Regions from separate parts of the Homo sapiens genome. Here all the other regions are linked to region 2. The links come from fine-mapping of genetic effects on gene expression. A gene starts in region 2. Each other region holds a variant in brackets. All regions are shown on one strand. Distances are from middle to middle.

What was found. PIP is the estimated chance that this variant, and not a neighbour inherited with it, causes the effect. A credible set is the group of variants that fine-mapping cannot tell apart.
Region 1: its variant is the best candidate, but not a certain one, in a credible set for the expression of BTD in whole blood (INTERVAL, PIP 0.89).
Region 3: its variant is the best candidate, but not a certain one, in a credible set for the expression of BTD in whole blood (TOPMed, PIP 0.70).

The regions. Positions count from the first base shown.
Region 1 is chr3:15,652,156-15,656,398 of GRCh38, reverse strand. BTD (biotinidase) reads right to left here. Exons shown (of 4, transcript NM_001370658.1): 4 at 2,685-4,243. Among named protein-coding and RNA genes, the nearest start is that of MIR3134, 43 kb to the left of the region's middle. The variant G/A (reference allele first, on the strand shown) is at 2,398.
Region 2 is chr3:15,599,526-15,603,768 of GRCh38, reverse strand. BTD (biotinidase) reads right to left here and starts at 2,024. Exons shown (of 4, transcript NM_001370658.1): 1 at 1,875-2,024. It overlaps HACL1 (2-hydroxyacyl-CoA lyase 1), which reads left to right and starts at 2,200. Exons shown (of 17, transcript NM_012260.4): 1 at 2,200-2,386; 2 at 2,575-2,679. The coding sequence starts at 2,306. RefSeq lists a silencer at 1,752-1,811 and an enhancer at 1,653-2,295.
Region 3 is chr3:15,646,435-15,650,638 of GRCh38, reverse strand. BTD (biotinidase) reads right to left here. Exons shown (of 4, transcript NM_001370658.1): 4 at 1-4,204. Among named protein-coding and RNA genes, the nearest start is that of BTD, 47 kb to the right of the region's middle. RefSeq lists a silencer at 2,703-2,997 and an enhancer at 3,424-3,957. The variant C/T (reference allele first, on the strand shown) is at 2,121.

The sequences.
Region 1 (4,243 bases), 53 kb before region 2:
GCTACTTGGAAATATTTTTCTAAATATGGAGGGGAAGGGGACGTGAGGTACAGTGGTGAAGTGTGTGAGACATGCAGTTTGAGGGGAACAATGGGTGCAGGTAACCAAGGCAACAGATGTGAGGTATTGATTAGAACTGATGGGAAGGGGGTAGGCTATTTTACAATAACTAGGGGCAAGGAGGAACAGAAAAGTTGAGGTTTGAAAACAAAGGTCAAGGAAGTTAGCAGGCTAAATCTTTAAAGAGAAACTCAGAGAAATTCATTGTATCTTACATCTATAATAATAACAAAGTAGGCTGGGTGCAGTGGCTCATGCCTGTAATCCCAGCACTTTGGGAGGCCGAGGTGGGTGGATCACTTGAGGTCAGGAGTTTGAGACCAGCCTGGCCAACATGGTGAAACCTTGTCTCTACTAAAAATACAAAAATTAGCCAGACATGGTGGCAGGAGCCTGTAATCCCAGCTACATGGGAGGCTGAGGCAGGAGAATTGCTTGAACCCGGGACGCAGAGGTTGCAGTGAGCCGAGATCATGCCACTGCACTCCAGCCTGGGCAACAGAGTGAGACTCTGTCTCAAAAACAAAACAAAGTAAAAACAACAAAGTATTCTCTGTCATACATGAATACTGTTTCGTTTCTTATTTACTATTAGAAAAAGCATAATTTACAACTAGAAAACAATGAGAGTCTCCAAGGATATTTGAGCTGAAATCATCTCATGTAGTCCCCTCTTTTACAGAGAGAGGACCTTAGGCCTTGAGAGGCACAGGTACATGGCTGAGGTCACACAACAATTTAAAAGCAAGCCAGGCCTGGTCTCTGGGCTCCCAAGCCAGCGCATTCAAAATCTGGGTTTATTTTTTCACTTCTTATTTTTTATGTAAATTTGTAGGAATAAATCTGTTTTGTGACATATGTCCCTTTTACTATTCAATATACACTGCACCAAGGAAAGATCTGAAACAATTTTCAGGGGCCAGTAGAACACAAGGGCCACATTTTGTGGTATTAATTGCAAAACAATGAAGTTCTTCACCCTTTTCAGATTCATTTATAAATGCCAAAATACTGGCTTTTATTATAAGTATCTTTATATTCCATCAACCTAATAATTTTCCTTACATACGTCAAACTCCCAGCATGCTTCAACCCCTAATATGCAGCAATTTAGAGGATATGCACATTATAATTCAGAGGACACAGCCTTCTTTGTTCCTCTAATAGTTACTAAACAATTTGGATTGCAACCATTCTTTGAAGATGTGCGTGTTTACTGAAAACAAAGCCTTTCTGTTGTGCATGAATGTAGGGGCTTTTCCTCCTGTGGCTTTGACGTGTCTGATGTCTTTTAAAAACTGATGCAGGCCGGGCGCGGTGGCTCATGCCTATAATCCCAGCACTTTGGGAGGCCAAGGCGGGCAGATCATCTGAGGTCAGTAGTTTGAGACCAGCCTGACCAACATGAAGAAACCCCGTCTCTACTAAAATACAAAATTAGCCGGGTATGGTGGCGCATGCCTGTAATCCCAGCTACATGGGAGGCTGAGGCAGGAGAATTGCTTGAACCCGGGACGCAGAGGTTGCAGTGAGCCAAGATCATGCCATTGTACTCCAGCTTGGGCAACAAGTGCAAAATTCCATCTAAAAAAAAAAAAAATTAGCCAAGTGTGGTGGCAGATGCCTGTAATCCCAGTTATTCAGGAGGCTGAGGAAGGAGAATCGCTTGAACCCGGGAGGCAGAGGGTGCAGTGAGCCAAGATTGCCACAGAGTGAGACTTCATCTCAAAAACAAAAAAAAGGATGCAGGACTATATTAGAAAATGTTAAGCTTAACATGAATAATTCCAAAGAAATGTTTTGGTTTTTGTCCCTTAAACTGCTATTATAGATTTTTTAATTGTTATTTTTCCCTTAAATAGCTATTTATTACATTCCCCTCAGTGAGTCCTCATGGCTTGGATATGAGGTGTGACTGACTTAGGAGGAGGTGAAGCATCTGAAAACCTGTCATCAGCCAGAAGAATCATTTTAAATGACCATGTTATTCCCCTGCCTAATCCCCTGCAATGCTGTCTGCCCACATAAACCCTAACTCTTCCCCCAGCCTGCAGAGCCTGCAGAACCAGCCAATGCCCTCTCCCCTGACTCCATGCTCCTTCCCTCCCCTTCACTTGCCCCAGTGCCCAATGTTGCCTTACTGGCCTTTTACATTTTTAAACTTGTTAGTTCTTCAAATACTGTTGTAGCCATTTGGAAAAATAAAATCTGCACAAATATCTTTTAGCAATTTGTTTTGGGGGTTGTGTGTGTATTTAAATCCCATGTTTATATGAACACTAGGTGATAATAAGCTCTCGCTAAAGGTAACAGTCTTGGCCGGGCGCAGTGGCTCAC[G/A]CCTGTAATCCCAACACTTTGGGAGGCCAAAGCAGGCAGATCACTTGAGATTCAGCCTGGCCAATATGGAGAAACCCTGTCTCTATTTTAAAAAATAAATTTTAAAAAACAGTAACAGTCTTATGTGACTTTGCATCCTCCACAATTTCTAGCACAGTATTTTACACGGAACTAATGCTTAACTTTCACACGTGATTTTTTGAGAGTTGCAAGACATCCATAGTCGGATCAACAATTTTTAAAGAATTAGAACACCCCCAAAGTTATACCTTATCTTACAAATCACATTATACATAATTACATCTTTCTTTAATTATCAAAGAATCACTTTAGAACATTAGAGTTCTTCCAGATCACTGAATAGGAATTTCAACCATTACATTCCAGTACTTAGAGAAAATGTAAATATAATTGCCTTTAGTCAAACAAAACAAAAATAATATATTTGGATGATGAACAAGTCACCCAGAAAGGGCTGAAAATTAGCATGACAGGGAGAGAAAACATTTCTGGGTTGGCGACGTTGAAACACTGGCTGTGCATTAGTCCAGGTGTGGGAATTCCAGCCTCGTCCTATGTTGCTGGGATTCTGTTTAGTCTCAGGCAAGGACTTGCCTTCCAGGCCTTAGTTCCTTCTTCTGTAAAATGGACACACTTGCCTGTTTCAGAGGACTGAGGTGATGATTAAGACCCGTGCACCTGCTTTGGTATGCACCGCATTAGACAGTGGGCTCACACTTGATTAGGATCGGAATCACCTGGAGGACTTGTTAAACACAGATTGATGGGCCCTACTCCCAGAGAGTCCGATTAAGTTGATCTGGGGTGGAGCCCAAGAATTTGCATTTCCAACAATTTCCCAGGTGCTACTGGTGCTGCTGCCTGGAGCCCACCTTTCGAGAGCCCCTGGTCTGCACCATACCAGGCTGTTGGATAACTCTGTCTGGGGTGGATTAGACAAAATTCTGCGGGCAGGAGGTTTTCCTGGCCACTGTCAGAATACCTCCTCTAGAACTTCCGATTTCAAAGCAAACAAGTTTGTTCAGCATGGACCCTTCTTTTTGTTGTTCTCCCTCTATCTGAGAACATCTCCCTGTTGCATTTTGCTATTCAAAACCAGAAGAAAAGAGAGTAGATGTAGATGATTTCTGGCTTTGTGTAACCCAACAAATAATAGCCACTAATAGCACTTGATATATATATAGTGGGAGAGATACCTGTATAGGAGCAGTCAGGATAGCTGGGAGATTGAGTGTTGGATGAATTTTAACTTGGATGTGGGAGATTAAGGTGCTGGTAGCAAGACTATTGTATTAGTTTTCTATTGCTGTATAATAAATTACCTCAAAACCTAGGATTTTAAAACAACACACATTTATATTTTATAGTTTCTGAGACTTAGGAAATCAAGAGTGACTTTGTGGGGTGGTTCCGGCTCAGGGTCTCTCATGAGGTTGCAGTCGTTTCCCAGGGCAGTGGTCATCTGGAAGCTTGACTGCAGCTGGAGGACCCACTTCCAACATGGCTCGCTCATGCAGCTAGCTGGTGGCTGTTCCTTGCCAAATGGGTCTGTCCATAGGGATCCTTGGGAGATGGCAACTGGCTTTCCCCAGAGGGAGGGACCCAAGATAGCAAGTGAGCAACCAAGATAGAAGCTGCAGTATCTTTTTTTTTTGGAGACGGAGTGTCGCTCTGTTGCCCAGACTGGAGTGCAGTGGTGCTATCTCAGCTCATTGTAACCTCCGCCTCCCGGGTTCAAGCGATTCTTCTGCCTCAGCCTCCCGACTAGCTGGGACTACAGGCGTGTGCCACCATGCCGGCTAATTTTTGTATTTTCAATAGAGAC
Region 2 (4,243 bases):
CTCCCATTTGGAACGGGTATATTTACCTCACTCCCGTGCACCCATTGTATCTAGGAAGTAACTATCTTGCTTTTATTTATTTATTTTTAAATTTAATTTTATTATTTTTTTTGAGACGGAGTCTCGATCTGTCCCCCAGGCTGGAGTGCAGTGGCCCAATCTCAGCTCACTGCAAGCTCTGCCTCCCGGGTTCACACCATTCTCCTGCCTCAGCCTCCTGAGTAGCTGGGATTACAGGCGCCTGCCACCATGCCCGCCTAATTTTTTGTATTTTTAGTAGAGATAGGGTTTCACCGTGTTGACCAGGATGGTCTCCATCTCTTGACCTCATGATCCGCCCGCCTCGGCCTCCCAAAGTGCTGGGATTACAGGTGTGAGCCACTGCGCCCAGCCACTAGCTTGCTTTTGATTTTACAGGCTCATAGGCGGAAGGGACTTGCCTTGTCTCAGATGAAACTCTGGACTGTGGACTTTCGAGTTAATGCTGAAATGAGTTAAGACTTTGGGGGACTGTTGGGAAGGCATGATTGGTTTTGAAATGTGAGGATATGATATTTGGGAGGGGCCAGGGGCAGAACAGTTTGGCTGTGTCCTCATCCAAATCTCATCTTGAATTATAGCTCCCATAATCCCCACATGTGGTGAGAGGGACCCAGTGGGAAGTAACTGAATCATGGGGAGGGGATTTTTCCCATGCTGTTCTAATGATAGTAAGTCTCATGAGATCTGATGGTTTTATAAAGGGCAGTTCCCCTGCACACGCTCTCTTGCCTGCCACCATGTAAGACATGCCTTTGCTCCTCCTTCACCTTCTGCCATGATTGTGAGGCCTCCGTAGCCATTTGGAACTGTGAGACCATTAAACCTCTTTTTCTTTATAAATTACCCAGTTTTGGGTATTTCTTTATAGCAGTATGAAAATGGACTAACACCGTCCACATATGCAGGGAGGCAACCACTTCACTCTCCTCTGCTTGGGGTGGGGTTGAGGGGTTGAGAAAAAGAGGGGAAGACCTTTTGAAAAGACCCAGGACTACAGTTTGAAAATGTCTGGGTTTAGAAATCGTTTCACTTCCAGTGCTTCTCACTCATTTCACTACCCATGACCCACTCCCCTCTCATCTCTTTACTGTCCACTTATCACTGTTCTTTTTGCTTAAAATGACTCCAAATCCTCAAAAAATTAAAAGTTCCACTGTTTATTACAATTGGAAATTTTATGTTTATTGTCACTGAGCAGAGGGTCTAATGACTCCAAGGCAGTAGTTTCAGATATTGCACATTGCAAACGATTTTCACACAAAAATGTTTTAAAAGGCTATCGGGTGCAGGGCTGGTTGTAGGTAGGGACCCAACCTAAGAATTATGAAACGCCATAGTTCCTAATTTTGGAAAGATATTAGCGGAGAGTAATATGGATTAGTAGCAAGGGCTGGAGAAAACAGTGCTCTATACTACCTTCAAGGTGCTCTTTTCATCGCTTGTGACCCAATGGCTGAATAGTGGGTAGGAAACAGGATTCAGGATCTCAGGCACGGTCTGGATCTACTGACTCTGAGCGTCATTTTATCTCTTGCTGGGGTACACATCTGCTTCTGGATTTAAGTAACGTGCGCTACAATAATTTAAGGACTATAAAACCACAAGGTTATGAGAGCGTAAACCACAAAGCGTGTAAGTAAATGCCTAGAAAACGCAACGCGGTAGCACAGCAGCAACGCACAAACAGCCCCAGCAAACGACGCGCGCCGGGCTTCCCAGCTCCCGGCAGCCTTTGCGCAGCCCTCCCCAAGTCCAACTGGGCGCCCGGGGCGGGGTCTGGACCGCACGCCCTTACCACACCCCCTCCGCGCCGCACCACGCCCCCTCCGTACCTGCTCTTAGCGCGCCTTCCGCCCTGAATATGCGCATGCGCCATTCTCCCTTTACAGCCCCGAAAACGCTCCAGCTGGCCGACTCGGAGACAATGGCGAGAGGCCTCAGAGTTCGGCTTCTTACCTGCTTTGCATAGGCAGCAATCTCCTGCTAGTCCCGCCTCCCTCTGGCATTCTGGCGCGCGAATGGAGGAGCCGAGAAGAGAGCGCAGTTCTGATTGGAGAACGCGCGTGTTTACATTCTCACCTCTCCCGGGAAGTGGACGAATTTAGACCGCCTCTTCCTTCCCGTTGTTTAAGGCAGTTGGTTGCCCTCCTGTCCGTCAGAGGTGCAGTACCAGAGGTGGCGTGCTGCCGATTTCGCGTTTGCCTTGCTGGATGATTCCGCTTGTTTGCCGGCTGCGTGAGTGCTTAGAGCTTTTCGGTGGAAGATGCCGGACAGTAACTTCGCAGAGCGCAGCGAGGAGCAGGTGTCTGGTGCTAAAGTCATCGCTCAGGCCCTGAAAACGCAAGTACGATGGACCTTCCTGGAATGAAAGGCTCCTACGGAAGCTGGCGGGGACCGCGATGTTGTCTTGGAGACGAGTAGAAATGGGCGATGGGGGTCGGGGGGTTTTCCTTTTAGCGCCCGGGAGGGAGGGAAGGATGTGGCGATATGGTGGGGCCTTGGGAGTTTACTCCCCTGTTCTTCGTTCCTCAGGATGTGGAGTACATATTTGGCATCGTAGGCATCCCAGTGACCGAAATCGCCATTGCTGCCCAGCAGCTAGGCATCAAGTACATCGGGATGAGGAATGAGCAAGCGGTGAGTATGGACTCAGGTGGCTGAATGCGTTACTGGGAATGATCAGTAATAGCGGTAGGTATGCATTGCAAACACCCAGATAGCGCTTACCACTCTTCTGCTACTTTACATATATCATATCAATCACTGTTGAATATTAACTGTTGTTACACCAAGTTGACAGATGAGAAAAGACACAGGTTAAGTAAAACTTGCCTTTGGTGACACAGCTGGTAGTAGCAGAGCCAGGGTTTGAACCCACGTATTCTGGGTCTGAGTCCATTCTCTTACTACTATACTGTATGTCATGATTGGAATGGACAGTTTATGAGTAAAGTCTGACTTCCCTATTAGGCTACAAGCTCCATTAGAGCAGGGATATTATTTCTTCACGACACATCTGTACCCCCAGTGCTTAGTGTGGTGCCTGCATAAGAAAGGTGTTCAGAGATTACCTGTGGGATAAATGAGTGAAGGCCAAGGCTTTGTTGTATGATTGGTTCGGGGCAGGGTGGAGGATATCACAAATGGTAGTGCCTTGATGGAAACTCAGATGGCTCAGATCCTAGCCTGATGCTTTTTCCACCACATCATGCTGCCACCTTTCTTAGAGGCTTATTTGGAAGCAGGATAAGGAAGATACGACGTTTTGTCAATCCACTTTAAGTGCATCCTCTGCCAATCCACCTTGCTCTTCTCTCAGTAGTGCGGGCTTGAAAGGTCAAGAATCCACTTCTGTGATATCACATACTCTCAGTCCAGCTGAGGCTAAATATTCCTGCTTTACACTCCCACCGTTGCCTTCTAATTTAAATTCTTGCCTCCTCTTGCCCAAACAACTGCCTGGCCACCCTAAGTGGTGCCTTTTGCCATCATACATGAGTGCCTGGAGGGCAGAAGTTGTGATTCATTTGTTATATCACCACAGTGCCTGGCTTGGTTTGTGCTTTCACGTGGTGTAGATGCTTAATATTATACATTATTTATTAATTGAATGACATTCTTTATTGAATGACATTCTTTATTGAATGACATTCTTTATCTACAAGGTTTGAGATTTGTATTTTTTAATCTTAAAACTAGGAGGTTTTGAGTTTCTGTTGCTTCTACATTTTACTTGTCTTTGTTAGAACAACATTCTGTTCTTTCATCTGTGTGAAAAAATGAAGCTATTGACCTATGAATGGAACCTATACTTAACTGTTTTTGTAGAGATGACATATCTGCCACTGATTTCTTCATACAGCAAACATTTATTGACTAAGTACTGTATACTAAGGATTGTGCTACATAACCTGTAGGAGAGAGGGATGTAAAGAAGGAGTGAGGTTTAGTCTTGATCTTCACGTTGATCAGTCCTGGAAGGTGAGGGTAAGACTTACAGAAAAAGACTCATCTATTATAACTCTCACAATAGATGTAGTAGCACAGAAGGGGTGACTGGTTCTCTTTGAGGACAGAGAAGATTGCCTGTAGAGGTAATGTTAGTTCATGTGGTTCCCTCAAGGTAGGTAAAGGCATGGTGAGCTGTGAGACTGGTAGGTAGGTTGAGGGGAGGTTGTGGGAAATCTAAAAAGAGTTTGAA
Region 3 (4,204 bases), 47 kb before region 2:
GGCAGATGAAGCCTAGAAGTCATGGCCATTGTTGCAACTACACGAGAGTCTGTCTGTGGGAGAAAATGATAAAGAAGAGTGCAGAGTAGAGTGTGATACTGTGTCCAGAGACACCATTTGAGCCCCTAGATTCAGCAATGGCTGAAGAGAATTTATTCTTAGACTCCCCAGTTACGAGTTAATATATTCTTTTTTTTTTTTGCTCAAACAAAAAGAAAAAGATGAAGAGAATGAGAAGGAAAATGAGAAGAAAAGTTATCTACAAAAAATTATATATGCATGATGCCTAGAGTTCATATATTGGTAATTTCATTTTTAACGGTGCAGCTGTTATTCAGATTTTTGTTTTACTTCAGTACTGAACACAAAAATAAAAAAACTTTCCAAACGGAAATAATGTTTCGTTGTGTTTTTTCTCAGCCTGTCTGAGAAACATTCTAAACATTCTTTGTGACTACCTATTCATTCATTCATTCATTCAGCAGTCAGCAAGCATAGAGCAGATTTTGTAAGCCAAGACAGTGCCATGCTGAACGCTGCAGAGACAAAAGATGAATAGGACACTGGCTCTGGTCTTAGAGGGTGGGTCTCCGTGGAGTCACGATAAAGATGCAAATCCAAGACTCAGCACATATTTGCATGTGGGCAATTCATTAATATCTCTCTGTCAGTTTTCCCCATCTGTAAAATAGCTGTAGCAAACCTTCTTTAGGGCTCATGGCAGTTAAGGGAGACCATTTATGTGCATCCAGCACAGAGCTGTCACTCACTACTAGGTGGCTACTCTAGGCATGGCTCATGTTCCGGCAGAGGGAACTCAGATAAATAGTTCAATGAGAAAGGGCTCTGTGAACTGGGAATGGGAAACACCAGTTCAAAAAGTGGAAGAGTCACAAGCTGTGATGAGAGAGTAGACCTTGAAGGATGGATGAGTGTTCATCAGAAGACGCCATTTCAAGCAGACAACAGTACAGGGGCCAGACTGTGCTCAGCACACTGGAGGAGCTTAAAGAAGTAGCTATGGCTGGACCAGAAACCCAGGTTCACAGTAAGGGCCATCATGTGAGCTCAGAGGTCAGGCGGAGCTGAGGCTGTGCAGAATGTGAACTTTGGCCTGAGGAACAGCAACTGTTGGGAGGTGAGAAACGGGAGAGCTGTGATTTGGATTGAGCAGAGTGGCAGCCCACCTGCAGGATGGTACCCAATGAGGTTCACCTCTGGGCATCTAACACCCTCTGTCTCTTTCCATAGGGAGCAGGGCTGACCTGTGTAACTCAATAAGATGGTGCCAAATGATGCAGTGTGACTTCTGAGACTAGTTAATAAAAGACATCATGGCTCCACCTGTGCTCTCTTGGATCATTTGCTTCAGGGGAAGCCAGGGGCCACATCATGAGGACACTCAGCTATCCCTATGGAAAGACCCAAGTGGTGAGGAGCTGAGACCTTTTGCTAGCAGCCAGCACCAACGTGCCAGCTGTGTGAATGGGCCATTTTGCAAGTGATCCTCTGTATTTGTTTCCTAGGTCTGCCATATCAAAGTACCCTGAACTGGGTGGCTTCAAACAACAGAAACTTATTGTCTCATAGTTGTGGAAGCTGGAAATCCAAAATCAAGGTGTTGGCAGAGCCATGCTTCTTCTGAAACCTGCAGGGGTGGGTTGTGTGTGGGGAGTTGTTTCTTGCCTCTTCTAATTTCTGGTGTTTGTTGGCAAGCAATTTCTGGTGTGCCTTGTCTAGTAGAGGCATCCCTGTGATCTCTGCCCCTGTTGTCACATGGTCATCTTCTCCCTGTGTGTGTGTCTTCTCCTCTTCTGATAAGGACATGTCATATTGGATTAAGGGCCCAGTTACTCTAGTGTGATCTCATTTTAACTTATATCTTCATTGCATCTGCAAAGACCCTATTTCCAAATAAGGCCACATTCTGAGCTATTGGGGGTTAGGACTACAACGTATCTTTTTTGGGGAAGACGCAATTTAATCAATAATATTCTCCAAATCCAGTGAGGCCTTCAACCGGCTGCAGCCTTGGTTGATATCTTCACTGTCACCTCGGCTGACATCTTGACTGTAGCCTCATGAGAGACCCGCTTTCCTGCCCCACAGAACTGGGTGAA[C/T]TAACAATGTCCATGCTTGTTTTATGCCATTAAGTTTTGGGGCACTTTGTTATGTGGGAATAGGTAACTAACATTCAAAGGGAGGTTAGGGAATGAAAGACTGAAGCCAGGAGACCAGGACCTTTCTCTGGCCTGAGAAGGAACATGGCCTCCCAAGCAGTCCCACTCACAGATCTTCAGGCCACATCAGCTCTTGTCTCAAATCTAGGCCTTTGTGCACAAAACATTTCATACTTTTATGCCTATTTTGTCCTATATAAATCCACTTTGTTGAGAAATTGTTCTTTGAGTGGTCATTTCACTTGAGCGGTTCTGAGTTTCATTGAGAATCAAGAGCGGCCGACTCACCATCGGTCCTCTCTGAGGAGATCTTCTGTGCAGGGACACCTCCTGGGCTACTAGCCAGTGCTCTGATTGGCTGGCCTTGGGCTGGGTGCCTCCTCCTGGTTCAATATACCATGGCTGGGGGGTGGGGGCACAGGTACCAAGCAGGGCCACCTGTGGGGAAAAGTGGCCTGGGTGGGTTTCCCTCAGCAGGGGCTCTGGACAGGCCTGTGTCTTGAGAGCAGACATGGTGGGCTCTGGGACTTGGCAGTCTGTGAGGAGGCCTGGTTTTTTCCTCTCTAAGAACAGGGCTTTTAAATCCAGTGTGAATACAGCTCACTGTGCCTCTCACTTCCCGTGTGAGAAAAACCACAGAAAAGCACAGCTGCACCTACATGAGAAACCACGCAAACCAAGCCACTTCCCCCAAGTCTGGTTTAGCCAAAAATGCATTTGATTTCCTGTCTCCATGTTGTGGTCAAGATTGCCATTTGCTTCCTGAGTTTCAGGATCACAATCGACAAAAACATAATCACAACCATTAGTCATAGATATATTTTTTCCCTGAAAATGATTTATTTTCCCGTCCTCTACTTTGTTCTGTCATCTGGCAGCTACTTCTTTTAATTGTAAAAATTACTTTGTTCTACCACCATTAGTTGCTTTTCCCCTCATTTCTACTTCACGAGCAATTCATTCTAAATTGTTGGTAGAAAATAACTCAGGGAAAGTTCGTGGTGCTCTGCCCAGAAGGGCAGAATGAGGATCCTGCAGGTGCTGATTAGATGTTTACTGGGTGAAGTAGTTCTGCCAAGTCTGTATTTAGCGCTGGCCTCTCTTTCTCAGGCTTATTTGAATCATCTTGGCATAAGGCAATGATATGCATTTTTAGGTAATTTCTGTCTCCCTGGGGTTTGAGGCAGGGAAGCAGACTGGGCGGTGGGTAGCCACATCTGGGGCCGCTTCTGGACTGCCAGCTCACGCCTGGTGGGAGCTGCGCTGGGCGAGAAAGCGAACTCCGTCATCTGGTGGGAGAGGTCCTGCTCCCCTTCCAGAGGGACTTCCTAGGGCGTGGGGAACCCAAGGCTTGCTCAGGAATTCCAAGTCCTTGCTGCTTATTCCCTGAAGACTTGACTCATCCCAGACCTTTCCGAGGGATCAGTGAGTCAGCAGGGGCTGGTGCTGGCTCTGCTTTTTCCCACATGGTTTATTCAACATGCATTCTATGAATAAAAAACCGAGGCCCAAGGTCTCCCCAGTGAGGAGTTAATGGTGAGGCCATGCATGGAAACCCCATCAGTCTGACTGCAGAATCCACATTGTTAATTGTCCTGCCTAAAAGCCAGAAAAGGATCTGGAGGCCTACACCGTGGGGGAATAGGGAGATCATTTCATTTTTCTTGCTTTATAAAATCGTGTGATGTTTAAGCATATACTGTTTAAAATAACTAAAAAGGAGTTCAAACTAAATGGCCACATTTAAGAGGCAAATCACTGAAGACTAATTATCCATTCTGTACTTAAAAAATGATCTGAAACAGCTACTAGGCATGCAGTCAAAATCCTTTTTTAAATGGCTTTGAAATATTGGACACAAATTACACAGAAATCAGTGGCCTAAAAATGTCTTCACCATATTGAGTCTGATAATTTTGCATCTGGAATTCCTAACATGGGAAGCTCCTGCTCTGTGCCTGTTGGGTGATTGAATAAATGCATGACTAAAGTGGGCCACCCTTCATGCCCTTCACGGCAGTCCC